Regions from separate parts of the Homo sapiens genome. Here region 2 is linked to region 1. The links come from fine-mapping of genetic effects on gene expression. A gene starts in region 1. The other region holds a variant in brackets. All regions are shown on one strand. Distances are from middle to middle. Region 1 holds the start of CYSTM1 (cysteine rich transmembrane module containing 1). Region 2 overlaps CYSTM1 (cysteine rich transmembrane module containing 1).

Region 1 (15,467 bases):
GAATTTATTTTCTTAATTACTGAAAAGATTAAAAAGCAGAAGGATGCTTCATAGTTGACGGAACTTCATTGCCATAGTCATTTGACTCACAGCCTGGGAGAAAAATGTATTCTTCTTCTAGGTTGATTTTCTAAGATCACTATCAGAAGGCCAGGCTACTTCAGGAATCAAGTCAAAATTAAAAACACATGCATTTATGTGATACCTCTTGAGAACGCAAGTTGCTGTACAAACACATTTAAAGCATTAAGTGCTCCCTGATGCCCTTTCCTCAGAAGTAGTACTTCCAGAAAGGAGAGTGCATTTAGGTAAAACCAATGGCAGGTTCTATGCAATGATATCAACATGGCTCAACCTCTGAGTGCCAGAATTTGCTTCTCATTAGATACAACTTTTCTGGAAATACAAGAGAAGGTAAGTTGATTTCCAAGTGAATTCAAGCCTATGAATTCACAGGTTCATAGCTGTATTACATTACAGAACCTTTCAATAGGAGGAGCTTTCAGGAAGCTTGTGGTTTCAGTATTGGTGGCCTGTAGGGGTCAGTTGTGTTTTTTGTTTGCTCAGCATCCATTCCTCCTACTTCTGGTAACTAAACTTGAATTTTCCTTGGGAAGCCATTCTTCCACACTTTCAACTGTGGGATTTGGGGGAGGCTGTGTTCACCCCCAGCTCCAGAAGAGAACATGGAACCAGCCAATGTGTTACATGCCCTGGCTACGGCCACACATTCAGGAGAAAAGCAAGTTACCCAACTAAGCTCCTGACAGGGCGCGGTAACTCATGCCTGTAATCCCACCACTTTGGGAGGCCGAGACAGGTGGATCACTTGAGGTCGGGAGTTCAAGTCTAGCCTGGCTAACATGGTGAAACCCTGTCTTTAATAAAAATACAAAAAAATTAGCTGGGCGTGGTGGGGTATACCTGTAATCCCAGCTACTCGGGAGGCTGAGGCAGGAGAATTGCTTGAACCCAGGAGGCAGAGGTTGCAGTGAGCCAATATCATGCCACTGCACTCCAGCCTCGGTTACAGAACGAGACTCTGCCTCAAATAAATAAACAAATAAATAAATAAATAAATAAATAAAAACTTAAAAAATAAAAACTAAGCTCCATTCTAGAGCTTTTCTTAGTATTATTAGGAAAGAGAAAGCCTTTTGTCTGCTGAGACTTTTCACTGTGAGAATGAAATTCTGATACCATCAGAAGGATTATCTGAGAATGAAGACATGCAAAGAAAAGAGCTGAGAAAGAGAAAGGGGAGAATCCTGGTGACAGTGTTTGAGTGCCTGGATCCAGCTATACCTGAAAATCAGACTCATCCCTGGATTTTTGGCTTCATGAGCCAATACATTATCTCTCCCTCTTTAAGCTGATTTGAATAGTGCTTCAGCACTTGCAGTGGAGAAATTCCTGACAAGCAAATTGGAATTTGAAAACATAGATCAGAAAAAGAGCCAGAAGGGCCGGGTGCAGTGGCTTATGCTTGTAATCCCAGCACTTTGAGAGGCTGAGGTGGGTAGATCACTTGAGCCCAGAGTTCAAGACCAGCCTGGGCAACATGGTGAAACCTGTCTCTACAAAAAAAACAAAACAAAACACACACACACACACACACACACACACACACACACACACACACACACACACACAAATTAGCTGGCTGCGGTGGTGTGCACCTGTAGTCCCAGCTACTCGGGGGAGAAATTGAAATGAACCAGAGGCCAAGTCTCAGTGAACTTCTCCAGTGCTTTAAACCTCTCTATACTTGACTGAGGGAGAATTCTGATAGTATTTGCGATTGAGCCTGGGAGCTCCACAATTATATTGTTCAATTGGTGCAGACTTTCATTCAGTAGAGTTACTGAGTGCCTGTGCATGCCATGTACCAGCAAGTGGACAGGCTTTCTCATTTTCAGGAGGGGTTGCTTCTAGTCCCTGGTCAGCCCTTCTTCACCCTTTGGGGCTACACCATTGCCTTCTGACCCAGCCTGAATACTTCTGCCAAGTGATTCTTCCCAAACACTGCATTCCATTCTCATTTCCCACTTCAAGGAACTTCAGTGGTTCCCTAAGTTTTCATATTGAATCTATTCTCATCTGCTCAGTCCTTAATAAAACTAATAATAAAAACTAAGTTTAAGGCACTTACAATGGGCCAGGCATCATGCTTACATTTCATAGGTTGCTCAGTTCATCTTCAAAGTGACACTATAAAGCAGATATCAATCTTATTCCTATATTTTTTGGACGAGGAAACCAATGCACAGAAAGATTAAGTAACTCACTCAAAGTCACATGGTCAATATGTGGTGATGGAGTCCAAATGCAATCCTGTCCCTCTGGATCCAGACTCCATGCTCCTCCCAGAAGATTCTACTGTCTCAAAAGCTCTCCCACAGTCTGCTCCATCTCTATCTTATTTCCCACAACTCCCCAGTTTCCACGGTTCAGTTAGGCTGGTCTTACAGCTATGCCCACCATTACCTAATTTCATTGTCTTTGCTTTTTTTGTTTAATCATGCATCCATTCATTCAACAAAGCGTGGCTGATCTTACACTATGCTGATAATTTCATTATTATCTTTGCTCATTCATTCATTCATCTAGCCAGTGAATATTTACTGAGCCCCTGCCCCGGCTGCTCAGATCACCGCCCTGACCCAGAATGTTCTCCTCACCTACCACCTCTCCAAATCCTATCTTTTTTTTGTTTTTGTCTTTGTTTTTTGTTTTGTTTTGTTTCTCTGTGATGGAGTCTCGCTCTGTTGCCCAGGCTGGAGCGCAGTGGCACAATCTTGGCTCATGGCAACCTCCACCTCCTAGGTTCAGGCGATTCTTCTGCCTCAGCCTCCTGAGCAGCTGGGATTACAGGCATGCGCCATGACGCCTGGCTACTTTTTGTACTTTTAATAGAGATGGGGTTTCACCATGTTGGCTAGGCTGGTCTTGAACTCCTGACCTCAAGTGATCCACCCACCTTGGCCTCCCAAAGTGCTGGGATTACAGGCGTGAGCCACTGTGCCTGGCCAATCCTATCTTTCAAGGCTCTGCTACAGACCCTTCCTTTCATGTATCCCACCTTAGCCAATGCAGCTGGCATGGCCCCTCTTTCCATGAACGCTGCGGGCATGGAAGGACATGACATAGTTTAGCATTCAATTTCACAGCAGCCTGGCAAGGTCTCACACTGTCTTATCTTCCCATCAGAAATTGGATGCCTGACCAAGCCAGGGCACATGCTCCTTCTGTATCCATCAGTCTTGAGTGTACATTAGGCATCCAAGAAACATTCTTTCATCCAGTTGTTCAGAGAACAAATGTGGTCCAATAAAAATACAATGGTTTAAAAAATGGCCCTTTAAAAAATATTACGAATCTGGGTTCTCTTTCTTTGCCCTGGAATTCACCTAAAGTTTATGATAGTCTTGTGAGGTAGGTATTATTATCTCTATTTTACAGATAAGGCAGAGACTCAAAGAAGGTGAGTAACTTGGCCAAGTTCACAAAATGGATAAATCTCAGAACACAGGCTCCCAACGACTGCACCATGTTGCCTCCACAGTCCTTGGACAGTTCTCCCGAATGAACAAATATTGAAAATTCATTGTTACTTCTGTGACTAATGGACTTTCACAGCAAATATGCTTGGCCAGGACCTTGTACCCTGACATTTTTCTTTTATTTCCAGGAATGGAAACCCACACTGCTGTTGTGAAGACACCTGATGAAACTCCAGCAACTTCTACATCTGGCCTGCTGCTTAGTCCTGGGACCTGAGGTCAAAATCTTAGAAAAGAGCCATGTGAGATGCATTCCCTGGCCTCATCTCTGTTCTTGGATGCTGTCAGCAACACTCCTTGAGTTTTTACCCACATAATAACACTTTCCTCAGCATGGATGTGGAGGTGGGGGTGAGGAATGTTCTATTTTTCCTTCGATGGTTACGCCCTCACCCTACCAACTCAGTAAAAGGGGAGTGGTCAGGGAGCGTACTGAGAATGTGTCCTAGCATCTTTTCTTCCCTAGCACAGCCTTCATATGACCCAGCTGCCATGAGAAGCTTGCCTCCCTTCTAAGGGAATTACCCCTGCCTTCCACTCCATCCTCACCTTGCCCTGCCCAGATTAGAGGCACGGAGGCATGTACCACAGGCCTGAAAAACTGTCCAGCCAAAAAGCCTGACTGCCTTGAGTACTATCAGGGTGTAGTTATGGACGTGCCTGTTTCTGCTCTTCCCTCTGCATTAGTGCTCTGCAAAGGGTGGCTCTTACCCTCAGATGGTCCAGAGGTAGTTTGGGGTGTGCATGGATCACCTTCACTCTTCAGAGGCAAACAGACAATGCTGCTCTTCTCCAACAGCCTCTGAAGGACACCACCTACTGACTGGTTCTGAGATGTTTGCTGCCCCAGAGTCTCCCACCTGCTTCTTCCTCCCCCTCAGTCCTTTTTTGTAGCCTCTCAGCCTCCCTTCTCTTAATGCTCTTAGCACCCTTTCCTGGGTCTCTATTTACCCTGCCCTCCCTTTCAGCAACTCCTTCCCAAACCACTGCATACTTCTCCTTTCTTTCCAATCCCTCCTCCCTTCCCAGCACTTTCGCCCTCCATTGAATCCCTCAAGCCTCATTCTGGCCCCACTCCTCCCCTCACCCTCTATCCCTGCCCTCCTCAGATCTGCCAAACACCTCAGGCCTGGCTGCCTCTGTCCTGTTCCTACCAACCTTCTGACCATGCCTCTGTGCTCCTTGGGACCTGGGCTCACATTTTCAATCTCTTCTCTCCTATTAGTACAGCTCTGTCTAGAGCCATGGTTCTTCTCTACCTTTCACAGCTGTCTTCTTTCCCACTTATATGAGTTTCTTTAAGTGTGAAAATTAAAAAGTGCCACTTAAATACAATGATTAAGTCATAATAAACAGTACAAGTTGTACTTATGTGAGACATACCACCCATACACGTTTGATCTTCGAGAACCACATCTCAATCTGCCCATGGCCCATTGCCTGACACTAAAAGATGCTCACAAGAAGTTGACTATAAACTAACTTCTTGGTCTAAGATCCTAAACTCTTGAGAGGGAAGGTTTCAATACATATGAAACCTTCTTGGCAGTGCAGGGATGAGGAGAGTAAAACTGAAATGAAAGTCAGCAAATAGTGAAGGTGTGAAATAGGCAGTGACTCTCACACTGAGACCTCCAGGGGATGTTAAATTTTCATTTCGAAGCTGATAGTCTTATCTGGGAAGCCTAGAGAGTAACAAAAGTTGTAGGCATATACTTATATTAGAGTGGTGCAAAAGTAATTGCTGTTTTTGCCATTTAAAAAAAAAATGCAAAAACCACAATTACTTTTGCACCAACCTAATAGCAAGCAAGGGGAGGAATATGGAGAGAAAATCAATTTCTAAAATGAAAAATAAAAAATTTTTTGCAAGTAGGACTTGCAAGCTCATTCTAGGCCTTGCTCTGGGAGCTTTTCGGTAACTTCTCTTCCTGTTGGAACAGAAGAAGGAAACCTTCAGGACAGAAGATTCTGTCCCCCTTCCCCCTCCTGATGTGAATGAAGTCTCATTACACTCTAAAGTACTGGCGGGACTACTTGTTGCAAGGTTTATGGGGAAAAGTAGCCAGAGAGCAATCCAGTTATCAGCCTCAGCCCCATTCCGCTCAGGTACAGCTCGGGAAGTAAGCCCCCAACCCTAGTTGGGTCTGGACCAACAAGACACGAGGAGGCAGCAGCCCACAGCCGACCCCTCATGCCACGCACTGAGCAGGGTTCCGCATGGACGCTGGTCTTGCCTCCCAGGCGCCTGAACTAGCGGAGTTGGGGTATCGGGTGGAGTCTCGGAGAACCAATCCAATCTGAGGGGGACGCCTGTGGGAGTCCTAAGTATCCAGCGCAGCTGGGAGGCCCACGTTGGGAAGTCGGAGACCGACCCCGCCTCCCGACTGCGCCGACTGCAAGAGAGCGCTTCCGGCGGCGCTTGGAGGCCGAGCAGTTGGGGGCGGGGCTCGTGCTGTGACGCAAGCCTCGCCTCGCCCCGCGCCGCGCGCGTTGCCAGGGTGATCAGGTGACTCCCGGTTCGCGGCGCTGGGAGCGGCCGTGACGTCAGGCGCCCGGCTGCTCCTCACTTGCTCTGAGACAGGTGCGGCAAGTCTACTGCGGGCTGGTCCGGGCTCCTCAGGTTCAGACCCGACCGTTATCCAGTCGGTTCGTGGAGAGGAGAGGTGAGGTGCAGCGGACCTGGCCCGACCCAGCTGGGACCAGGGCGGGGATCAGGCACGGACAGGGCGCGTCCCCGGGCTCCCTGGGGAGCGCCCTGAGAACTGGGGGGCACCCGGGCTGGCCTGGCTCAGGCAGGGGTTCGCGCAGCCCCTGGGGAGGGGCAGGGAGGCAGGGAAGCTGCTGCCGCCAGCTGGATCCCTCCCGGCGCCCCGCGGCTACTCTGGGGCTCCTGGTCGCCGCGCCGCGCGTCTCGGCGGTGGACTCACAGGGTCTCCGCGTCGCTGCGGTTCTCGTCTCACGAGGAGTCGGCGGGCTCGGAGCGGGGCTCGCCACACCCCGTCCCGGGGGACGTCCGCGGGAGGCTTCTGGATTTCTTCGCCTTGGGCTGCGATTTCTGAGGCGCTGCTCTGCCTATTCCGAGCTGGGCCAGCCGGGGGCAGGGGGCAGGTCGCGAGTCCCGCGGGTGGGAGCGGAGCGGAAGTAACTAGTGACTGGAAGTAACTAGGGAACGCAAAGCCGGCGCTCGGAGGCCGGGGTGTTCAGAGAAGGCGTTGCGGGGGAAAGGAATCCCGGCTGCTGTTGAGAGCCGTGGATTGGGATCTGAGCGGACCTGTTGGAGGAAGTGAAATCTGAGCGGGGTCCTGACGGGTGGGAACTAATCTCCCGGTAGCAGTGGAGGTTGCAGGGGGGAGAGAAGGAGGGGAGGACCCCTGGGGAAGGAGACCATGAGGAAAAACGATTTGGGGACTGACTGGACCGTCTGCTGGGCTGTTTTGGGGGAAAAAAAGTTTGGAGAATTAGGTTAGGGAGGATTAGGAAAGGACCCTTGAGTGCCCACCTGAGAGGCACTGTGTGCTGTGGGGAGCCATTGAAACGTTGGCTAGATTGGGGTAGGGGGAACACTGAGGAAGTTGGTGTGAGGGGAACACTGAGGAAGTTGGTGTGACATTCCGGCAAAAAGGTGACAACACTCTTCTCTGATGGGATTCCTCAAACCCTGCTTATGAAATACTTGTAACCGACAAGGGTAGGGGCTCAGGCAGCCAGGTGCCTTTTTCAGCCATTGTTGGCAAATTTTTAGAAATTAAACAAAAAATAATTGTACATATTTATAGATTTATACAATATGATACATGTAAACTTTGTGGAGTAACCATGTTAGCAGATTTTTAAAAATTCCTTTTTATGAAAGGACCCACCCAAGGGCAGCTCATTTTCGAGTATCTCATTTGACGGGATTTAATGACTGGTTGGGAGCTATGCCCCCCTCAGTATGCAGGGAGATTATAGCGTCCACAACACTTTGCCCTTCAGAGGTTTCAGAGTGACTTACAAACACCTTGTATCCCTAGGGTGAAACCCAAACCCCAAATGACTGGTAAGAGATTTAATAGGGGGAAGTTATTAAAGGAGAACCAGCATCCAAACATTCATGTGGGGCATTGGATTCGCTGAAAGGAGTCCCATACTATTTGTTGATTGTAGATCAAAGATCTCTAGACCTGGCCTGGTGCGGTGGCTCACACCTGTAATCCCAGCACTTTGGGAGGCCGAGGCGGACGGATCACGAGGTCAGGAGATCGAGACCATCCTGACTAACACGGTGAAACCCCGTCTCTACTAAAAATATAAAAAATAAGCCGGGCGTGGTGGCGGGCGCCTGTAATCCCAGCTACACGGGAGGCTGAGGCAGGAGAATGGCGTGAACCCGGGAGGTGGAGCTTGCAGTGAGCCGAGGCTGCGCCACTGCACTCCAGCCTGGGCGACAGAGCGAGACTCTGTCTCAAAAAAAAAAAAAAAAAAATCTCTAGTCCTTTCCTGCCAGCTTTGAGTTTCTCCGTGTAAGGCTGCGTAAGTGTTAGTTGGCTATTTTGTCTTAATTTCCTGAGCAACAGGAAAAATATATTTTGGTTATATGAAGAGGAATGCTTTGGTAATTTATGATTTTTCCCAGCCCTGAAATTTATTGGTGCTAGGACCAAAAATACACAGCTGTCTATTTTATTTTATTTATTTGTTTATTTTTGAGGCGGAGTCTTGCTCTGTCGCCCAGGCTGGAGTGCAGTGTCGAGATCTTGGCTCATTGCAACCTTTGCCTCCTGGGTTCAAGAGCTGTCTATTTTATATTGAAACTTACCAAAGTCTGTTTTCTGGGAGGTAGTGAAATTATTTTGTATTTCTTTGACTCCAGAAAACAGAATTGGACCTCCAGGGATCCTGTACAGTGAAAGGCAGGTTTGGGAATTGCGAAGGAAGGTGGCCGCAGCTGGTTTGTGCGTAAATATAGAAACCGGTGCAGCACTCAAAGGAGTGCAAATCCAGGGTGAGACCTGGGGAAACGGGACTTCCAGTCAGATCAGTGAAGTCATTCTCTGTAAAAGAAGCCCCGAAGTGTGTAAAAGGCCAGAGTAGTTTTTTCCCCGTGTGTTCCTGTTGAGTGGTAGAGATTATGATAGTGATTTTTAAGGGGCTTTGCAGGAGCTTGTTAATATTAAGAATCGCTGGAAATCAGATGTCTTGGCCTCATTAAAAAATTTAGAAAAGTAACTGTTTTCCAAATCTCTTTGATACTATTTGAAGTGGCCAACTAATTATGGTTCCTTTGGAAAGAAACAGTCCACCCCCTCCTTTCCCAAACAAAATAACTATGTGCTGTCAGGGCAGTTAAGTAGGCCAAAAGTTTTTGGAAATTTTCTGCTTTCATTCACCCAAGCCACCCCCACAAGTTTTCTCATTGGTAGAGAACTTAAGACTTTACTGTCAGGAAAAAAATGTTAGTGTGTTTCCCTAAATACAAACTATAATAAACAACAGGGCTGGCCTTTAATAGAAATGCTCTTTCTTAAGGGGGACTGGGCTGAGGTGAAAGGCAGGGCTGGGGTATGGGCTGGAGCATTTTGAGCTCACATTTGTCAACTAAGGCCTTGAGCAGGGCACTCCTTTCTTGGCATGGAAACTTTCTTTGACCTTGAATGCGGGTCAGTACCTCCTCACAGAGGTACCAAGGAGAATTAATGAGAGGCTTATATGAAATTTGAGCTCCTCCAAAGCAGAATATTTTAATTCTTGGATGAATGGTATATTTTGAGATGTGATAAAAGTTTTTTAAAAGAGTTTGAAGTTCTAAGTTTTTGGAAAAGCCCTATTCAAGTCCTTCCTTTTTTTTTTTTTTTTTTTTTTTTTCAGAAACAGGGCTTGCTATGTTGCCCAGGTTGGTCTCTAACTCCTGGGTTCAAGTGATCCTCCCACCTCAACCCTGTGAGTAGCTGGGACTACAGGCGACCATGCCTGGCTATCTAAGACCTTTTTGCTGATTTGGTTTTTTTAATTTTTTTGAGACAGGTTCTGGCTCTGTTGCCTGGGCTGGAGTGCAGTGGTGTAATCGCAGCTCACTGCAACCTCCACCTCCTGGGCTCAAGCCATCCTCCCGACTCAGTCTCCTGAGTAGCTGGGACTACAGGCCTGCACCACCACACCTAGCTAATTTTTTGTGTTTTTTGTGGAGATGGAGTTTTGACATGTTGCCCAGGCTCCCCTCAAACTCCTAGGCTCAAGCAATCTGCCTGCCTCAGCCTCCCAAAGTGCTGGGATTACAGGCATGAGCTACCATGCCTGGACTTTTTGCTGGTTTTTTGTTTTGTTTGGCTTTGTTTTTTCCTGGGGTTTTATGGGCTTGGTTACTAATCAGCCTGTAATCAAGATCTGAGGCCCGGTGCGGTAATCCTAGCACTTTGGGAGGCTGAGGCAAGAGGATCGCTTGAGCCCAGGAGTTCAAGACCAGCCTGAGCAACACAGGGAGACCCCATAGCTACAAAAAATTTTTAAAAATTAGCTGGGCATGTGGTATGTGCCTGTAATCCTAGCTACTCAGGAGGCTGAGGTGGGAGGATCGCTGGAGCCCAGGAGTTTGAGGCTGCAATGAACCATGATCACGCCACCGCACTCCAGCCTGGAAGACAGAATGACATCTTGTCGCTTAAAAAAAAAAAAAATGGCTGGGCACGGTGGCCCACACCTGTAATCTCAGCACTTTGGGAGGCCGAGGTGGGTGGATTGCTTGAGGCCAGGAGTTCGAGACCAGCCTGGCCAACATGGCGAAACCCTGTCTCTACTAAAATTACAAAAACTAGCTGAGCATGGTGGCATACGCCTGTAATCCCAGCTAAGTCGGGAGGCTGAGGCACAAGAATTGCTTGAACCCAGGAGGCGGAGGTTGCAATGAGCCAAGATTGTGCCACTGCACTCCAGCCTGGGAGACAGAGGAAGACTCTGTCTGAAAAATAAAAATAAAAATTTGGAAGCCTGAGGCTAACTAAATTCCTGTTTATATTTCATATATAAATAGTAAAGCTCAGATTGTTCACTCTCTTTTTTTTCTTTCTTTTCTTTTCTTTTGAGACAGAGTCTTGCTCTGTCTCCCAGGCCGGAGTGCAATGGCACGATCTCAGCTCACTGCAACCTCTGCCTCCCAGGTTCAAACGATTCTCCTGCCTCAGCCTCCCGAGTAGCTGGGACTACAGGCATGCACTACCATGCCTGGCTAATTTTTTGTATTTTTTAGTAGAGACGGGGTTTCACCACGTTGGCCAGGCTGGTCTCGAACTCCTGACCTCAGGTGATCCACCCGCCTCAGCCTCCCAAAGTGCTGGGATTACAGACGTGAGTCACCGCGCCCAGCCTCACTCTCTTTTTTCTTTTATTCTCTGTTAACCTGGTCTTGGCTTTTTTTGGAGTGCCTGGAGTAAACCAGTAACAGAAGGCTGTGGAACTGGCAGCCTATGACCCAGCATCTTTTTTAACAGCAAGAGTATTATCAGAAAGTGTCACAGCCCTCAAAGGAGTAAGTTATTAAGCTGGTCAGAGACAAAAGGGAGTAAGATTGTTCAGTAAATTGGATGAGGAGTGAAATAGTCATCTTTTAAAATTTCCCTCACCTGTGTCAGGCCACCAGTCCTGTCACTCAATCTAGTAGGATTCGAGTGCTTGCTGATGTGCCCAGGGACACTACGTACTGAACTACAACATCCATCTTTTAGACTTCTGACATTTGTTGGCCAGGTCAAGCTCTCTCTCATGAGGGAAATTCTGACAGAAAAGGCTTTCTGTTATCTGTAGGCTTAGCTGAGTGCCATGTTTCAGGCTTCCAAGCTCCTCACGCTTGGCCAAGGCTACTAATTGGCTTGGCTATAAAATGGGAGTCAGCAATTAAACAGCAGTAGTATAAAGCAAGGGAATTGAACATAAACTGACCCTCCCACTTTACAACCAAAAATGTTCACACCATTTTGGGCACTACACAAAGGAGTCTTCAAAAGGAAGTGAGCTTGGAATGATTCCTTTATAGCTTTTAGGAGATGTATGTGGAATATTATTATTGATTTAGGCCTCCAAGTCAGATCTTGGAAACTGGGTAGGTCCTCACATCTAAAGCAAAGGAGACAAATGGTTTGAATCCAGTCTCTGTGGGCAGCAAGCTTGTGGTATGACTTTGCCAAAACAACAGATGATTTATATTTTTCTAAACTCTTTTCATTAAATGGTTTAAGGGAGAATATTGATGGTCATGGTGGGAGGAGGGTTTGATCTACCTGAATTTACTCACTGAAGAGTAAATGCCTTATTCAGAGGTTCCTATCACTAGTTTCCTGATTATTTGTACTAAAGAATCATTAGCCAGTCTCAAGAGCATTGGCTCAGAAAACATCGTAACTGAAAACTATCTAGGCATGCTTCTTATTCAGAGAAAAGTAGGGATGGGAAACAGTTGAACTACAAAGACATTTGGGGAGAGGAAGACCTGGGAAATGGTGCTAGACTTCTGCCACGTTAAACGTTTAATGCTGCACGCAGTACTTTACTGGTCAGCTTTCAGTTTCAGAATCTTAGGCAGAGTCAGTTGGGGAGAAAGTGTGTGAAGAGGGGGACATTTGTAAGAATGTGGCTATTCTGTGAGCCCTTATTGTTAAGTCGAATACTTAGTGCTTTCCTGCTGCCACTAGCTTCCTGGACACTCCAGACTTTGCCCTTCTGCCTCTTCCCCACTAACAGCCTTTCCTCCCCAACACCACCCTCTCTAAAGCCAATCTAATCTTTGATCGCAGTTTCTGCACCCTTCTGGCTCTGCTAACTTTGTTGAACTAATTTTTGGTGGCCTTTAATGTCTGGTGGTGGCTGTGTGAGAAACTAATGAGGGATAATTGTATTTACTTACTGATTATTATTTTGCTTTAGGGACAATCTGCCAGACTGGAGTGCATGGCATGATCATAGCTCAGTGCAGGCTCAAACTCCTGGGCTCAAAAGATCTTCCCACCTCAGTCTCCTGAGTAGCTAGGACTACAGGCACATATCACTGTGCCTGGTTAATTTTTTATTTATATTTCATAGAGATGGGGGTCTCACTATGTTGCCCAGGCTGGTCTCAAACTCCTGAGCTCAGGCAATCCTGCTGCATGAGCCACTGCACCTGCAAGAGCCACGGGGGCCACTGCCACTGCAAGATAGCAGGACCCCCGTCTGTATTTTTTGCTATGTTGACTAGGTCTTGCTATGTTGACTAGGCCATTCTTAAAGTCCTAGCCTCAAGGGATCCTCCTGCCTCAGCTTCCCAAAGTGCTGGGATCACAGGCGTGTGACACCACCTTCGGCCGGGTAGTTGTATTTAAAGGGAGGGTCTTGAAAGTAAACCCTAGTGTTTTTCACACTTCATTTGTGTTCCCCTGCATGATTTTTGTCTTATCTTTATGTCATCTGTACTGTTGTTTAACATTCTTCTTAAAGTTGACCCATTTTTTAAAACCCTAAAATTTGTTTAAAAGGGAAACGATATCATTGCCTTAAACTGATAACTACTACATCACCTGTCACAAATAGAAGGTATAAATTATTGAAGTTGTTTGTCCATGTTCCCCAAGTTCCACATATCCCACCTGGGGCAATACAGCCTTTACCCAAAGATATGACTCACTAATAGTGAGTTTTTCAGGCAGCAGTAGATGGGTGGTAGGATGGTTTGGAGTAGGCAGGCCTTCAGAGAGGGCCCCTTCAATCCTATCTTTTCCTAAAACTTGTGTGGTTCTATGATACTAGGAAGGCCACAGAATGAAGAATCTAGGAGGTAACAAGAGGTAAATGCAATGTGAAACCACTTCTGTTTTGATCTGAAGTTTGCCAAAAAGAGGCCTGAGTGGTGGTGAGGCTGTATACTATATTAAATTCTAGGCCCTCTGCCAGGGGTGTGGCTTCATTGATGCTGTGTTACATTGTTCTTTCTGTGCCAGCGTGCTCTTAGAAAACTCAGATTCTCCTGGGAAACTCAGATCTTTCTTGGGGGGCAGGAGGGATGCTTTTTTTTTTTTTAACTCATCAATAACCCAAACTACTTTGAGTTCCTTTCACATATAGAGAACTGTTTGTGGATGTTGCTAATGATAGAAACTGAAGTTATCATCTAGAATTTTTTTCCCCCAATCTTCATTGTCCGTAAAGCCTATTCCTTTAAGAATCCTATGAAAACAGAAGAAAGGGGGAGGGTGAGCTGCCCTGGGTTGTATGGTCTCTTAGGGTGCAGCACATGATAGGCATGAGTGGTACTTCCTGGTTTGATGTGAAATTCACTGTTGTCCATTAAGAGCCACCCCGCAGTGCTGACTGAGCTGCTGCTCCCTCAGAGGGTCAGGAGAGCGTGCTTTCATGATGGAGCAAAGCCAGGCTGGCTTGGTATTCATCAGGAACCAGGAGCGCTTAGTTAAATTGCCAGCACGTTAAGCTGTAGGGGCCTCTTTCTAAATCATCAAGATTTCAACTTTCCCACAAAGCCTAATCTAATGCTCTGGGAGGAGGCAGGCAGAGCCTGTCTTTCAGGGGCTGGGCTGGCAGGGGACCTGGCCTGGGAAGTGGCCTTATCAGGCTTGTTGGGAGGGATGGACCTGTCCCTTTCTAGTGTGTCCTCTCAACTTGGCAGGGGGCAGAGTTCTTCCCTTTTCTCTCTCTCCATGCCCTAACCGCTCCTTTCAATTCCCCAACTCACTTTCTGTGTTCACAGCTTTCTTCCCTTTTCCTTTCCCTTCTGTTCAATACTGCCCTCTCTTTTGAGCCTCTCTCTTGCTGGGCCCCATTTTCTCTCCATTCTCACTTTGAGGGTTGACTATTTGAAGTTCCAATTATAATGCTGTCCTATATGTCCCAGTGACTAGATGTAATTCAGAGATCCCTACCCTATTTTTCTGAGGAGAAGCCAACCTTCATTTCTCTACTGGCTTTCAGATAGCAGTGTTGGTGGGGTACTGACCAGAGTCCCTGAACTGAGTGGTTGGGTGAGGCTGGATGTGCTCCTCCCCGATATGGGGGTCCCAGCAGTATGGGGAAGGTATTATAATCAGGGTTTGCTGACAATGCCAGGATCCATTAGACAAGGGGCTGAGGCTTACCTGTGGGGACCCTTCCATAAGCTGAATGCAGAGGGGAATACTGCATCCAGGCAGTCCTCTAGCTTTTGCAGAGGACCATACATGATGAATGAAGGCTGGAGAAGGAGCCCTTGGGTGAGGTTAGCCTGGAACCCACAGGACTATTTGCAGCTGTGGATCCTGCCCTGAAGCTAGGTTTTCCCAGGTAGCAACTGGACCAAATTGTCTTCCCATGTGGTTAGATGGATTGTTGGAAGCATCTAGGAGCATGGCTTTCCTGCTTAATGAGTTAAAAAATTGATTATTTTCTTGTAAAAGCCATGTGGCTACTTTACCTAAAGATGATTAGCAAGGGTTTTAACTTTCATTGTTAAATATAACATATGTATAAAAAAGTATGTATAATGTACAGTTTAATCAATAATTGTATTCATTAGTGTAACTGTGTGATCTATTCAGGTTTAGAAATAGAAGTTTATTTTTAAACCCAAATGGGGTAATAGAATGCACTGTGTTGCAATTTGTTTTTTTCCCACCATGTTGGTGCTTTTTCATATCAGCACAGGTAGTTCTAACTTATTCTTCTGAAGCGTCATATAGCAGCAGTTCCATGGATTGGAAATACCATGGTTTATTTAACCATTCTCATATTGATGAACATTATATTTAATATATATGCATGTGTATAAAGTTGGGTTTTTTTTTTTTGGCATACCGGCTGGCACTAGTATATATCTGTAAGATAAATTCCTAAAGGTAGAATTGCTCGTTCAAAGGATAGGGTGTTTTTATGTATTTATTTGGGGTTTTACTTAAAAATATGTCTTTATTG
Region 2 (15,467 bases), 49 kb after region 1:
TCTTTTTTTTCCCATTTCCATGTCTCTTGTTCATTTTTCAAAAAGACTCCAGTTCATTGTGTAAAATGCAACTGTCTGTAGGGTGTACCAGTTCTATGCAATGCCCATGTTGCTTCCAGGTGTCTTAGCGATTGGGAAGCCCTGCCTTCTGTCCTTCAGGTCTCTGTCTTGGGAGCAATAGTAGCAGCTAGAGTATACAGAATACCCGCTGTATACTAGGCACTGGCCTATGTGGATTAACTCATCAAGTTCTTGAAGAACCCAATAAGGGAATAGGTACTAATCTCATCCCTATTTTACAGGTAAGGAAACTAAAGCTGGAAGAGGCTGTCACACCCTCAAAGTGGCACTGAGGTTGGACCCTAGGGTGTCCCAACTGTAGCACTGCCTTTCTTTGCTTTTGCCCTATGTTCCTTGGTGGGCTGCCAGGCCCAAGGGATTTGGTCTGCTTGTGCTGTGATATGGACAGATGATGACAGCAGCATTGCAAACATACTATCCAGGAGGGTGGTACCCTAAGTCAAGTGTGCTATATACGGGGCTTTTGGAGTTTGCTGAGAGTCCTTCTGCTCTATCTCTTAGTTCTCCAAATTGGTAGTGCTGTAAATAAAATCACCGCTTTGGCAGCTGAACTCTACCGGATGGGGTGAAATCAGATGCCCTCTGGCCCTCCCAGCATATTTTTGGAGGGTCCCTACATACCTGCTCCATCTACAAGGCCAACCTTACTTAGTTTTCCACCTTACAGTTTTCATGGCAAGAGGCTGGTCATGATTGTGGAGACTTTTTAAATCTGGCTTCAGTGACAAGCTGGCCAAGCCTGATAGAGTTCACCATGGAAGGGAGTTGTTTCCCTAAACTCTGGCCCTGTCTTCCAGGGCCAGAGTCCTAGTTACAGTCGTACAAGCCAGGCCACCACTTCTGTCTCCTTTTCTCTGCTGGTGAAGTCTCTAGCCTCACATTTGCCAAATAATCACATCTCAGTGGGTAAAGTGGGGATTTTCAGGACCATTTGCCCTTGATTCTAGGTGGATGTCAGCTTGTGTTACAAAACAGTGTTACGAAACAGCAGGAATTGCGGTGGATAATTTGGCATAGCCCAGGCACCCTGCACAGTTCTTTGCAAATCTACAAGGAATGGCCTTTGTTTCTCTGAAATCGTGGGCAGTGTGCTGCAGGTAGTAGAGGGGAGGGGTGGGAGACAGTCCTTACAAGTGAGGGTTGCCCCCGAATCACCTTCTCACCACATTCATTGAGAATGGTCATCCTGTCCCATCCCTGACCTTGGAACTCACTGTGTACCAGCCTCTAAACTGAGGTGCGTTCAGGAGAAAACACTACTGTTTTTACTGTCATAAAATTAAGCCTGGCAGTAGAAAAAGAAAACAACCTGCGGTGCTTTGCATAAATATATCTCCTGGAGCTGTTAATCAGTAACACAGGAATCTGGTACCTTTTGAAGCCAGTTATGGTCTGTATACCTAAGATAAAACACGTTTTATGTTCATTAAAAATGATATGGCAGTGTTTACCTTCTTAGAAAATGCAGCAAGTACTATTTGAATGAGACTCCTGGGCCAGCACTCAATGTGAATCAGGCTAACATTGACGATAACAGAGTAGTCTGTGCCTGCCTGTGCCTGGACACTAATTGGAAAAACCCAACAGCTACCTCCTTGGTGATCTCTGCCCATTTGGGCAAGTTCCAAAGAGCCAGCTCCACTCAAAGTAACTTCTCTCTTTTTTTTTTCTGTAACCCAGTGCCTGAAAACCAGGAGGAAATCATTTCCCTGATTTCTGTTTAGCCTTCTAAAATCATGGCAGTAGTTGTCTTATATTCAAGGGCCACTGACATTGGGGGTTTTTGGTTTCTAAGTCATTTCCTATCTCTGTTTCACTCTTACCTTTTCTCTCCTTGCTTTATTTCTATGCTTCCCTGGTTTCAAGCATCATTCTTGCTGCTCAGCAGGGTATGAAATAACAGTTCATGCATTAATCACCCTAACCACGGTTCCATCCTGAGGGCAAGGGACTGTCAGGCCATGGTGGCCCTATCAGTCAGAAGCCAGGGCTATTAGGGCTGGCTGTGGCAGCCAGGGCCCATCTAAGATGATGCCCATTTCTTGGTGAGCCACTCACTAGCCATCGTTTATTGAATTTTCTTCTAGCAGTGCAAGAAGAGAGAAATGAGGAGAGGGCGGTAATAAGATTAACATTCCTCTCACCTTAACTCATTGAAAGGATCTGTCATGATTTTGTTCCAATTGTGTTTATAATTGGTCTTGCCCAGTTTGGCATGTGGCTGTGAGCTTCCTGAGATGGGTCTTTGTCTTCTTTTCAAGTGGTCTGTGAGCTGCCTGAGTCAGGGATGATGTCTCTTGTTTCTGGACTCCTCTGCAGGGTTGGCTGTGTCAGGAAAATGCAAAGTGAGCATGTGAGGTGGGAAGGAGACTGAGCTAAGTGTCAGCAACAGCAGCTTCTTTCTCCTTCAGCACATTTGCTGGATGTGAGATATAGTTGGAGCAGTCTAGAAGAGTCTTCAAGCAGGAGGGCAGGTGGGCACACAGGCAGGCAGAGTGGACTTACTGTTTTGTGACCATGAGGTGTCTCTGGCTGGCTGGAGTCCAGGCTGGCTCCAGGGGCCTGCAGGATTGATTCATGCTACCAAACCAAAGAGAACTGAAGCTGCTGCTGGGACAGAACATCCTGAGCCACCAACGTACAGAGTTTTGCCTGCTGTGAAGCTCAGCTCTGGTGTCTTTTTCCCCAAGTGTTGAAGTGTCCTGGAATTCTCATGTATAAACAGAGGATTAAAGAATGCAAGTTTCTTAGCTATTTAGGAGGCTGAAGCAGAAGGATCACTTCAGTCTAGGAGTTCGAGGTTACCGTGAGCTATGATTGCACCACTGCACTCCAGACTGGGTGACACAGCAAGACCCTGTCTCTTGAGAAAAGAAAAAAATAATGCAGGTTTTTATGTATGTGATAAAATTCTCATAAAATTTGCCATTTTAACCATTTTTAATGTACAATTCATTGGCATTAAGTACATTCACATTGTTGTGAAACCGTCACCACCACTCATCTCCAAAACTCTTTTCATCTTCCCAAACTGAAACTGTGTCCCTGTTGAACAACAACTCACCATTTTCTCCTACCTCCAGCCCCTAGCAACCACCATTCTACTTTCCATGTCTATGAATTTGACTACACTGAGTACCTCATATAAGTGGAATCATATAGTATTTGTCCTTCTGGACTGGCTTATTTCACTTAGCACAATGTCCTCAAGATTCATCCATGCTGTAGCGTGTGTCAGGATTTCCTTCCTTTTTTAGACTGAATAATATTCATTGCATATTTATACCACATTTCGTTTATCCATTGACACTTGGGTTGCTTCCACCTTTTGACTATGTTTCTAAATACTGCTGCTGCAAACATGGGTGTACAAATATCTGTTCAAGTCCCTACTTTCAATTCATTTGGGTAAGGGTTTAAAGCACAAGGAGCAGGATGTCTTTGAAGATCAGTTTCTGATGAATCACCGTTCTCTGCTGAGCAAAAGTCAGCTTTACTCACCATCTAATTTTAGACTCCAGCATAACTATCACTGGACACTCATAATATCAGACTTCATTTTGATATTTGATAGGCTTTCACAACATTTTATAATTCCAGTTTGATATATCCCCGATATATCCCCTTTCATTGACCACATTTCAGCTGGCCACTTCCTTATGATTGTGGAGGCACCCTTGTCACTTATTGGTGGGCACTGGACTAGGCAGTGCGCCTTACTACCGCCAGCTTGCTCTAGTGGCGTGGGCTCTTAATGACTTTGACCCTTCTCTTTCCTGACCCTAGTTGAGCTGGGCTTTTGGCCTTGTCCCCAGACCTGGCTCTTAGGACTTGAAACCATGAGCCTGCTGATGACTAAGACTGTTGAAGCCACTTGTCTTCCCCTCATGGCAGCTTTGTGCAAGCATGGTATTATCCCCCATGTCTTCCAGTTTTTGTAATCTGCTTTTGTTTCATCCAATTCTTATACAACATTTAGAATTATTGGAATTACATATGTGTAACTTCCTAGGAAAGTATATTTCTGAAATGCCTTGGCACAGGACCGGTTTTTCCCCATACCAGCTAAGGACACACTTGGGTGATAATTGGCTTCCTTGAGCCAGTGTCCATCTGTATTTGCCAGGCCACTTAGGAAGTAGAGATGGCTGGTTGTGAAACTCTTGTCTTAATGGGCATGTGATTATTCTCTGTGTTAATTTCTTCCTAGCAATTCTCTAGATTCACAAATGAGCCAACTCAAACTACTGCATAACTAAAAATACTGAGATCAGTTCCAGTGTACTGGTAGACTTTGAACTCATGACGTGGTAAGGACCTAGACTGTGGGCCATGTGGCTCTTGTGAGTGAGGCAGGGACTGCCCACTGTAGCCATCTGCCCCTGCCTAGAAGGATGTTGGTGCTGCTCATAGTTCCCAGCCAGCCTTCCCTCCCTGTGTCTCAGGCCCTGTAGGGGCAGCATGTGGAGAAAGCCTGTACCCTGCACTTTAGGAACTTAGAGTCTAGTTAGGGAATATGGGAACACTGACAATAAGCCAGCCACTTCTGAGACAGTCCTATTTTCTTTGTTCTATTCTAATAGCAGAAGTAAAAAGGAAAACATCACGGGCATACAGAATAAAAGTCTCCTATTCTTACCCCCAAAACTCTGTTCTTCTGGACACTGTACATATCCTGGCCTGTAGTCTGCCTTTTTCATCTAGATACTCACCTTGAGCCCATCTCTGCCTCAGTGCTGTATTCTTAAGGACTGCTTGATATTTCTAAGGCTGTTTTTGAATGATTGCAATTACAGTGTGCTGGCAGGAATTCAGAGTCAGAAAGACCCTTAATGGGGTAGGTCAGGAAGATCTCTTGGAGGAACCACCTAGAGATCCCAGGTTCTGGGTAGGATCCAGTGAGATGTTGCAAAGGAGAAGGAGGAGGAGGAGGACATCCTCTGCTACTTTTCTCTTCTGCTCTTCTCAGGGCTGATGGTGCCTTCTCCTGCTCTGGCACATGGCCCCTGGGGCAGGGAGTGGGAAGGATCAAACAATATTTTGTTGTCAAGGCATTTTCATCTTTGGGACCTTACTGTAGACACCACTGTCAACCCTGCTTTTTACAGATGTTGATACTGAGGTTTGGAAAGGTGAAGGGGACAGCCCAAGTCATGGGCAAAACCAGGAAGAGGAGGGAATGTCAGCTGGGTCTGAGCTGGGATGAGCTGACAAAAAGGATCAGTACATGCTTAGTACTGCGGCTACCATTTCATTACCCTGATGGTTACCTTATTTTCCGGATGCTGGAGGACAAAGGCGGGAGTTTGCCAGACAGTAGATCAGATCCTTCCCAGAAGAACAGAGATCTATGTGGGGTGTGGAATAAGAGCTCTTCACACAGTAACCCAGCTTTCAGCTGGGTCCCTGGCCTACACCCTGGGAGGGGCCTGCTCATGAATCAGGCAGCTATTTCTGGAGCTGATATGAGGCAAGGGGGCACTTTGCTGCACTGGGGTAGGCAAGCCATTCCTCTGGCAGGGAGAGAAGATCAAAGAGGTTGTTCAAAGGGTATGCAGCCAGTTCCTGGAGGGTGGCTGGTGTCTATGCTCACAAGTTATTCCAGGGTGAGCCAGCTATATACAGATCGACCCCCAAAGGCTGAGGGAGCTGAGAGGCTGACACATCCAGTTTCTCAGAAAGAAACATTTAATAGGGACTTAAGAACAGAAGCAATGTCTCAGGTGGAGGCAGGGTGGATCCCTGTACGTACTCTCCAGAAAGTATTATTTAAATAGCAAGCTTTTAGGGTAAACACATGTATAGCTGGTCATGCCTCAGAGTTTATTTTTTTGTTTGTTTGTTTTTTTGAGACGGAGTTTCGTTCTTGTTGCCCAGGCTGGAGTGCAGTGGCGAAATCTCGGCTCACCGCAACCTCTGCCTCCCGGGTTCAAGCGATTCTCCTGCCTCAGCCTCTCGAGTAGCTGGGATTACAGGCATGCGCCACCACACCCAGCTAATTTTGTATTTTTAGTAGAGATGGGGTTTCTCCATGTTGGTCAGGCTGGTCTCGAACTCCTGACCTCAGGTGATCCGCCCGCCTCGGCCTCCCAAAGTGCTGGGATTACATACGTGAGCCACCATGCCCAGCTGCCGCAGACTTTCTTACAAAACTCTAGGAAGATTAGACAAATATCTTCACTAGAGGTTATTTATGCAATAGGCATTGTTTCTTTTTTTCTTTTATTTTTGGAGACAGGGTCTTTCTCTGTCACTTGGGCTGGAATGTGGTGGTGTGATCATGACTCACTGCAGCCTCAAACTCCTGGGCTCAAGCAATCCTCCTGCTTCAGCCTCCTGAATAGCTGGGACTACAGGCATGAGCCACCACACTCAGCTACTTAAAAATTTTTTTGTAGAGATGGAGTCTCACTTTATTGCCCAGGCCAGTCTTGAACTCGTTAATTCAAGGGATCCTCCCGCCTCAGCCTCCCAAAGCACTGGGATTACAGGTGTGAGCCATCATGCCCAGCCTGGCATTGTGTTTTTATAAGGAGTTGTCTATGCTATGGGAATACATCAGTCATCGTGGTTTCACTTCAAGATGGTGTCATACCAGGCACAGTGGCTCATGCCTGTAATCCCAGTACTTTGGGAAACCAAGCAGGAGGATGGCTTGAGGCCAGGAGTTGAAGACCAGCATGGACAACATAGCAAGACCCTGTCTCTACAAAAAATTTTAAAAATTAGCCAGGTGTGGTGACATGCACCTGTTGTCCTAGCTACTTGGGAAGCAGAGGTTAAAGGATTGCTTGAGCCCAGAAGTTTGACGCTGAGGTGAGTTATGATCATGCCACTGCACTTCAGCCTGGGTAATAGAGCAAGACCCTCTCTCTAAAAAATAAAAATAAAAAAGATGGTGTCATTCTTGCCATGCAACAAACTGTTTTCCTACATAGGTGTCACTGCCCATTCAGGATCAGTGGAACGCTAGGACTGGCAGGTGGTGTAGGCAGATACAGGTGAATCCCACTGTGGGGATTCCTGCTGGGGTGACCACAGTACCTGGGTTGTTTAGGCCTTCAATCAGTGGGAGGGAGTTGGGGAAGGGGTTGTTACCAGGCATGGGCCTGGGCCTGGCAGTCAGGATACAGGAGGTGTCTGTGGCCCCTGGACTCCAGCCTCTGGCTGCCATCCTGATTGTTCCCATGTCCCATATGTTTCTCTTCTGTCCCAGGCTCAGTATACAAACTCCACATCCTCTGACTTGGAAGCTGCCCAGCCCTGAGCTCTGCCTGGGCTTCCTAGTCATACTTCCCAAAGATGTGACCGGTTTCCCTGACTTTGAACCTTGGCTCTGATGTCATGTAGTTAGTTGAGGCCAAAGGAAAACTGATGGGGACTGTTCATGTCTGTGTGTGAGCTGGAGTGAAGGAAGGTGTGCCTAGGCAGGGCCTTCGGTTCCTGGCAGTCCCCTCCCCAGCATTCTTGTATTTTCCTGCCGTGAATCTACTGGAGATAGAGATCTGGCTCTGTTCTGCTCTTCCTCTTCTCTCTGAGTGGCTTTGGGCATATCCATCCCTTGCACTGGAACTCCGTTACCTCCTCTCTACAGCGAGGGGCTAACTGATCTTGCAGGCCCCTTGCTCCTAGAATAGCCTGTGACTCTGACTCCCAGCCTCCTGTTTATTTCTGAGGCTTCTTCCCAGAGTGGGTAAACACCTCCTCTTCTTTCTCCCTGTCTACAAGAGGCCTGCTTTTGGTCAGGGGAGGGGTCTGCCTGAAAGGTCATAGGCATTTGAATAATAGTAATAACATCAGTGAGCATTTACTGAATGCTTTCCAATGTGCGAAGCACTGTGCCCAGCATTTTACATGCATAATCTCTTCATTTTCCCAGCAACCCTATGATGGGGTATAGATTACTAATATTATTCCTGTTTTATAGCAGAAGAAACTGAGGGTTGGAGAGGTTATTACCTGTCCAAGGTTACATGGCCAGTGAGTAGATGACCCTATATTTAAATTCAGCTTGATATTTTATTAAAATTCCTATTCTGGGCTGGGCGCGGTGGCTCACATCTATAATCCCAGCACTTTGGGAGGCCAAGGTAGGCGGATCACTTGAGGTCAGGAGTTCGAGACCAGCCTGGCAAACATGGTGAAAACCCGTCTCTATAAAAAATATATATATATTTATATATATATAATATATATAAATATATATTAATAATATATAATATATTTATATATATTAATAATATAATATATAATATAAATATATATTATATACTAAATATTATATATATATATATATATATATATAAAAATTAGCCAGATGTGATGGCGCATGCCTGTAATCCCAGCTACTTGGGAGGCTGAGGCAGGATAATCACTTGAACCTGGGAGGCAGAGGTTGCAGTGAGCCGAGATCGCACCCTTGTACTCCAGCCTGGGCAACAAGAGTGATACTCTGTCTCAAAAAAAAAAAAAATGTGGAGGGGATATTTCCAGGACACAGGAAAGGATGAGCCCAGTGACAGTACTGCTGATGCTGAGAGAAGGCCAAGGGGTGGGGTGGGCACTACCAAGGGTCAGCTGAGTAGACGCTGAAGTTCCTGACAAGGGTCCTGGTGCTGCTGAGGTCGCTGACTGGCAGAGGTGGAGAGCAGCAGTGTGGGAGTCAAGAATGGAGGGGCTCTGCTGAGGAAGTGAGAGGAGAAAGCGGAGTATGATGGATGTTCACACTCACTGGGGTGAGGGGAGCCAGAGGGCTGGTTAGGGACCTGGAGGTGGCCCCTGGAGCATCATGGAATCCTCAAGGCTGTGCATAGGCAGAGACCAATGGCGCCTGCTCCCTTGATGCCGTCTTCCCCAGAACCTGGCTCAGGTGGGCTCCTGAGTACCTTCCCAAACCCCAAGAGAAGAGGCTGGGGTTGATTTGGTAAATTCTGAAGTACTGCCACCTGGTGTGAAGGGCCAGGGGTTGCAAAAGAAGCCTTAATGAGCTGTTTGGGATCTTGCATGGGCAGGGGGGAGAGGGTTAATAGGGGCTCAGCCCTAGGAATTGCAGCAGTATAGGGGTCCTCTCTGGTTTGAGCTCCTTGGAGGGAGAGTTGTGATTTGATAGCATCCCCTACTTGCCAGGTTTGCCCAGCAGAAGTCCTGGTGCTAGCCTAGAACTCAGAGGCTGCAGGGCCTGAGAGGAGACAGAATTGGATTTAAGGCATATTTGATAGGTGGAACTATGGGTTAGGAGGTGCCAGGTCAGGCTATAAGAGGAGCATGGTTGTGGGGAGTTGGACCATGTGAGGTGTCTAGGTAACAGTGACTTAGGGAGGCAGCCCAGGACTGAGGATGGGGCCACTGGGGCTAGGAGCCCAGATTGGTCAGTGCCCACTGCCCCTAAAGCCCCCGGAACTATCTTAGAGCAGTTGAAATAGACGCTTGAAGAGATCCAAGGCATTCTAAAACTAGCTAGGCCCCACCCTTCTGCCATGAGGACCCCCAGGAGCAGCTTTGAGTGTGGCATTGGAATCAGACGAGCCTGGATTTGAGAAAAATGTAAAAGCAAAGTGAAAACCTCCACCTCTCTCCACACCCTGACCTTTAAGTTCTTGTATATTTCAGAAATGTGTGTGTGTGTATTTGTGTGTATATCCTTCTTATTGTACAAATAAAATAGATGCACTGCTCCAGACCTTGCTTTCATCCCTTAAATTATTGGTCACGTGGAAGAACCACCTGGTTCTTTTAGTAGTAGTCTATTATGTGGTGTGCTTTAATTTACCCAACTGGACTCACCTGATAGACATTAAGGCTAGTTTGGGGTTATTTTGATGCAGCAACAACCATACTTTACATAGATCCCTGAACGCTGGGACAATTATTTCTGCAGGATAAATTCCAGATACAAATTTTCTGGGTTGCAGTTGTTGTCTCTCCCCTTCTCCCTAAATTCTCCTTCAAAGAGATTCTGTCCATTCCCACTCCTGCTAACAGTGTATGAGAGTTATAAAATGATGATAATAATACAGAGCTGTTGGGAGGATTAAATGAAATCATATGTAAAGATTTCCGCCGGTGCCTGCCATATCAGGGCAGGCTTCAGGGGTGGGGCTCAGGGCAAGGGTTGCATTGAGAATTGGATCACTTTGGACAAGCAACAAATAAAGTACTGGGTTGGGTTTCCTGGTCAGCTTGGAGGAGAGGTGGCAGGAACAGTGGTCTGATAGCTGCTGAGTACCTGATGTGTGCCAGACACTGAAACAGGGAAAGCGCAGTGAACCAGATCAGCTTGGCCCCTGCCCTGCCCTTGTGGAGCTAACAATCTAGACAGAACCAGTCTGCAGAGTGTGGTAAGTTCTACCAGCATGCTGCCACTCCAAGTCCCCTCTGACTGGGTCTCTCTCTCCTCTGCCCGCCCTGCACCCCCTTCAACAGTGTACGTGATAGAACGGGAAAGGAAGATGGACAGCGGGTGTCAGGCAGTCCTGGCTGCTTGCTGGGCTGCTCTCTGCTGCTGCTGCCTCCTGGACAACTTGAACTGAGCAGCTAAGATCCGAGTATTTCCCTACAGCCCTGCTACCTCCTGTTACAGGAATAAACAACTACTGTTGCACAATTTCCATTTTCTTCTTTCTTTGACAATAACTCACAGATTTTTAAATTTTAGCACCTTTCATAGGTGTGAAATGGTATCTCACTAATTTGCTTTCCCTGATTACTAGTGACCTTGAACATAAACATATAAGTTTTGGGCAGTTTGTACATATCTTGTGAATTGATTATACATATTCTTAGCCTGTCTTTTCTGTTGGTTTGTCTTACTGATTTGTAGAGAATTTCTATATATTCTATCCACTAATATTTGTCTGTTTTATAGGTGTGCAAATATCTTCTTCCTATCTGACTCTCTTTTTTTTTGGAATGGAGTCTTGCTCTGTTACCCAGGCTGGAGTGCAGTGGCGTGATCTCATCTCACTGCAACCTTTACCTCCTGGGTTCAAGCAATTCTTGTGCCTCAGCCTCCCAAGTAGCTGGGATTACAGGCACGCGCCACCATACCCTGCTAATTTTTGTATCTTTTTAATAGAGACAGGGTTTTGCCATGTTTTCCAGGCTGGTCTTGAACTCCTGAATTTAAGCGATCCACCTGAGATCCAAAGTGCTGGGATTGCAGGTGTGAGCCACCATACTTGGCCTCTCTTAATCTTTTTATGGTGTATTTTCTAGTATGAGAAATTTTAGAAGTCATGTTTATCATCTTTCCCTCGTGCTTTGTATGGTTTAGTCTTTGAAAACTCATTTTCTATTCCAAGCTCATAAAAATAAGTCTATATTTTCTTTTAAAAATGTTTAAGATATAGTCGTTAGTCCACCTGATTTATTTATTTATCTATTTATTTATGTATTTATTTATTTTTTTGAGACCTAGTTTTGCTCTTGTTGCCCAGGCTGGAGTGCAATGGCATGATCTTGGCTCACTGCAACCTCCGCCTCCCTGGTTCAAGCGATTCTCCTGCCTCAGCCTCCCAAGTAGCTGGGATTACAGGCATGTGCCACCACACCCAGCTAATTTTGCATTTTTATTTTATTTTTTGAAATGAGGTATTGCTCTGTCACCCAAGCTGGAGTGCAGTGTCACGATCTCGGCTCACTGCAGCCTCTGCCTCCTGGGTTCAAGGGATTCTCTTGCCTCAGCCTCCCAAGTAGCTGGAACTACAGGCATGCACCACCATGCCCAGCTAATTTTTGTATTTTTAGTAGAGACAGGGGTTTCACCATGTTGGTCAGTATGGTCTCGAACTCCTGACCTCAGGTGATCCATCCATCTCAGCCTCCCAAAGTGCTGGGATTACAGGCGTAAGCCACCGCGCACCTGGCCCTGAATTTATTTTTTATCATGGGTGTAGGATAAGATTCTAGTTTTCTTTTT[C/T]CATCTTGGTAGTTCCAGCTGCATGTATTAATTAGATCATCCTGTTACCAAGCAAAAGGGGCTCACTGCCTGATGTGCTAGAAGCCAATTCCATGACACTGGGTTTTTGAGAAAAGAAATGCTTTTATTATAAGTTAACAATTAGACAGGATTCCAGCTCAAATCTGTCTCCCTGTCCTGGCTTTAAGGCAGTAATTTTATTAGAAAAGGTTAGAGGGGTGGATTCCAGGATGAGAGATGGTTGATGGAAGGAAAGAAGAGGTTTGGAAAGTCCTGGGGCATGTACAATAATCTCTTCATGCTACCTCTTGGATCCCATGTGCAAATTCAGGGGAGGGGTTAGCATGAAACATGCAGTGAAAATTCAGGCTGTGACATCATCAGCAGGCTCATTCTGTCCAAACTCCAGCTGGCCATATTGGTTCTAACAGATTTCACTCAGTTCTTTTGCCTCATAAGCAGAGGCGTTTCAGTGTTTCAGCAAGTTGTTTCTTGACTGCCATCTTGTAAACTCTGTTAGGGATTGGTGTCTTTAATCTTTGGGGCACAGTTTCAGTCCTTTCCCTATTAATCTGAGATGAGATTTGTCATATACCACGTTCCCATATACGAATTAGAATATGAGCTAGAATCAGGAATCTGGTGTGATGTGTACCCTCCTTCCACCAGCACGTGCATAAACACATACCTCTTATTCTTTTTCGTAATTTTCTTGGCTTTCTCGGCCTTTTACTGTTTCATCTACATTTTAGAATGTGTGTTAGTTTCTACAGAAAACCATGTTTGGCTTTGATTGGAACAGCATGTAATTTATCAAGTAATTGGTGAAAGAGTTGACATATTTACAATATTGTCTTCCCACCATGAACAAGTAATCTCTCAATTTATTTTTGTCTTCTTTTTATGTCCTTTAAGTCTTAAAATTTTCTTCACATAGTTCTCACATATTTTTATTGGTTTTTAAAATTAGATTTTTCTCCAGGTATAATTTTAATGTTACTGTGAATAGATTACTTTTTTAAAATGTTACATTTATTACTTGGTGGAAATAATTTATTCATTCCATTGGGATCACACATTAGAAAATTTTAGCCCATCTTTGTCACACCATTCCCTTGGGGGCAGTTCAGCTGTGAGGGGAGCAGTTCTTCAGTCTGTCCTATGCATGCTCCAGGGAAACCACCAGGGTTCTACAGAGACAATCATGGATTCCGTAAACGTAGCTCCAGAGTGTCAGGTGACAGACCACACAGAACAAACCCCCAATCCCTGCTTTTGCAGGGCTTATACTCTAGGGAGGGAACCAGACATTAAATAAACCCACAGGTAATAATTGACATCATACTTCCCTGTGAAGAGAAGAGACATAATGCCATGAAAACCTACAAAAGGGGAACAATCTGGCACAGTCCAAGAAGGCTTCCCCAAGGCAGTGAAGTGAGCTAAGATCTGAAAGATGTATAGATGTCAGTAGGCAAAAGTGTAGGAACAGCAGGTGCCAAGGCCCAATGGCAGGAAAGATGGTGGCTCATTTGATAAAGTGGAAAAGGAAATTGGTGTCATAGGCCGCAAGGGGACATTAGGAGCAGTTGAGAAACAGGCAGGAACAAGATGGAGGCTCATAGCCCAAGTTAAGGATTTTGGTATTTGTCTTGTGAGTAATGGGAAGCTGTTGAAGGATATTAAGCAAAGGGATGATATCACATTTGCATTTTTAAGAAATCCCTTTGGCTTCTGTGTGGAGAGTGGTTTGGAAGGGGGCACAGGTACACATGGTGATTATGGAGAGAAATGAATGCATTTGAGATATTGGGAAGTAAAATCAACCAGACTTGGTGATGGATTGGATATGGACATTGAGGAAGAAGGTAAGAGTCAGGGATGACTTCTGGGTTTCTGACTGGAACTGGGTGCCTGGTGGTGGTGTTTACAGAGGTTGGGAACAAGAGAAAGGAATCATGATTGGTTGAGAGAGAGAACAAACTGAGTTAGTTTGAGGTTTCAAAGTATCTATGAGACATTCAAGTGGAGCTGTCAGGTAAGCAATTGTATATAAACCTGAAGCTTGGAGGAGAGGTTGGGCTAGAGATGTCAATGTGGAGAGCCTTGGCATGTTGATGATCATTGAAACTGTGGCCGTGAGTAAGATCAACTTGGATGGAAATATGGAGGGAAAAGGAAAGATGGCAGTGTAGGGCTGAGCTTTAAGGAATTCTGGATGGATCTGCAAAGGAGTCAGAGAGAGAAAGCTAGGAGAATGGGATGTCCTGAGAGCTGAGTGAAGATGTATTGGGAAGAGAGGATTGATTAGTAACATCAAATGTTGCTGAGAGATTAGGTAAAGTGAGAACGCAAAAGTGTCTACACTGTTTTCACTGAGGAGGTGGACTTTTCTCCAGTTCTTGTTCTGTGAAGGAAATCAACAGAAGGAAAGACAAGACTGCTTGGAACTAGAAGACAGGGCTCCTCAGGCCTGGAGAAAGGCAGACATGTGTGTAAGCATGGAACAGGCAAGCTCACAGGTGCAAAGAACTAGCTGAGGCAGGAAGGCTAGGAACCTCCACTAAACTGGACAGAAGCATGCTAACAAAACATTGAGTTCCAAAAAGGTTAGACATCAAGTAAGGGAGTCAGGCTAATGTCACTCAGCTTTGAGCCTGAACAGAGGAGACATTGTTCCTCAAGAAGACTATGTCCTCTGCGGTAGCTGCTGGAGGGTCCAGCACATAGATAACCAAACAGATGACCATCCATGCCCTGGGGAGGTCCTTCTGAACAGTAGCAACAGTCTAGATCTTTCATGACCACCATTACAGATTTTGCTAATATACATCTTTTGAAAGGAAACTCTACATGCAACTCCAGTCTGGAAAATAGATACTATAGAATTGCTGTGGTTGAGGCAAAGAGGAACCACCCCCTACTTTTTATGAAAGCTTAGGGGCCTGAGGAATACATTTGAAAGCCCCTGGTCTTTGGGATTTTGCAGTGCATTTGGCCACAGGAGATTTGGGATGGTAGGTTTTGCCCTGGAATGTCATTCCAGGATACTGCCTTGCGAGCACAATCATCAGTGTGTTAACTGCTGGTGTATTCTATGAGGATCTGTGGATACTTTATTGCTGAGAAGTATTCCATTGTATTAGAGGTACCCCAGTTATTCATTCACCTGTTGAAGGACCATTTGGGTTGTTTCTACCTCTGAGTGATTATGAATCCATCTGCTATAAACATTGACGTTCAGGTTTTTGTGTGAACCTAAGTTTTCATTTCTCTAAGCTGAATACCCAGGAGTGGAATTTCTGGATCATATGGTAGGCTTAAGAAACTGCTACTCTTTTCCAAAGTGGCTTTGGCATCGTGCGTTCCTATCAGTAATGAATGAGAGTTCCGGTGGCTCTGCATCTTTGCCAGTACTTGATATTGTCAGCAATTTTTATTTTAGCCATTCTGATTGTATGTAGTGGCA

What was found.
Region 2: its variant is fine-mapped to the expression of CYSTM1 in whole blood (TOPMed, PIP above 0.99).

The regions. Positions count from the first base shown.
Region 1 is chr5:140,169,057-140,184,523 of GRCh38, forward strand. It overlaps CYSTM1 (cysteine rich transmembrane module containing 1), which reads left to right and starts at 6,132. Exons shown (of 3, transcript NM_032412.4): 1 at 6,132-6,229. RefSeq lists silencers at 749-944, 6,230-6,519 and an enhancer at 5,710-5,939.
Region 2 is chr5:140,218,227-140,233,693 of GRCh38, forward strand. The region is part of intron 2 of CYSTM1 (cysteine rich transmembrane module containing 1); the gene reads left to right. Among named protein-coding and RNA genes, the nearest start is that of CYSTM1, 51 kb to the left of the region's middle. The variant C/T (reference allele first, on the strand shown) is at 11,999.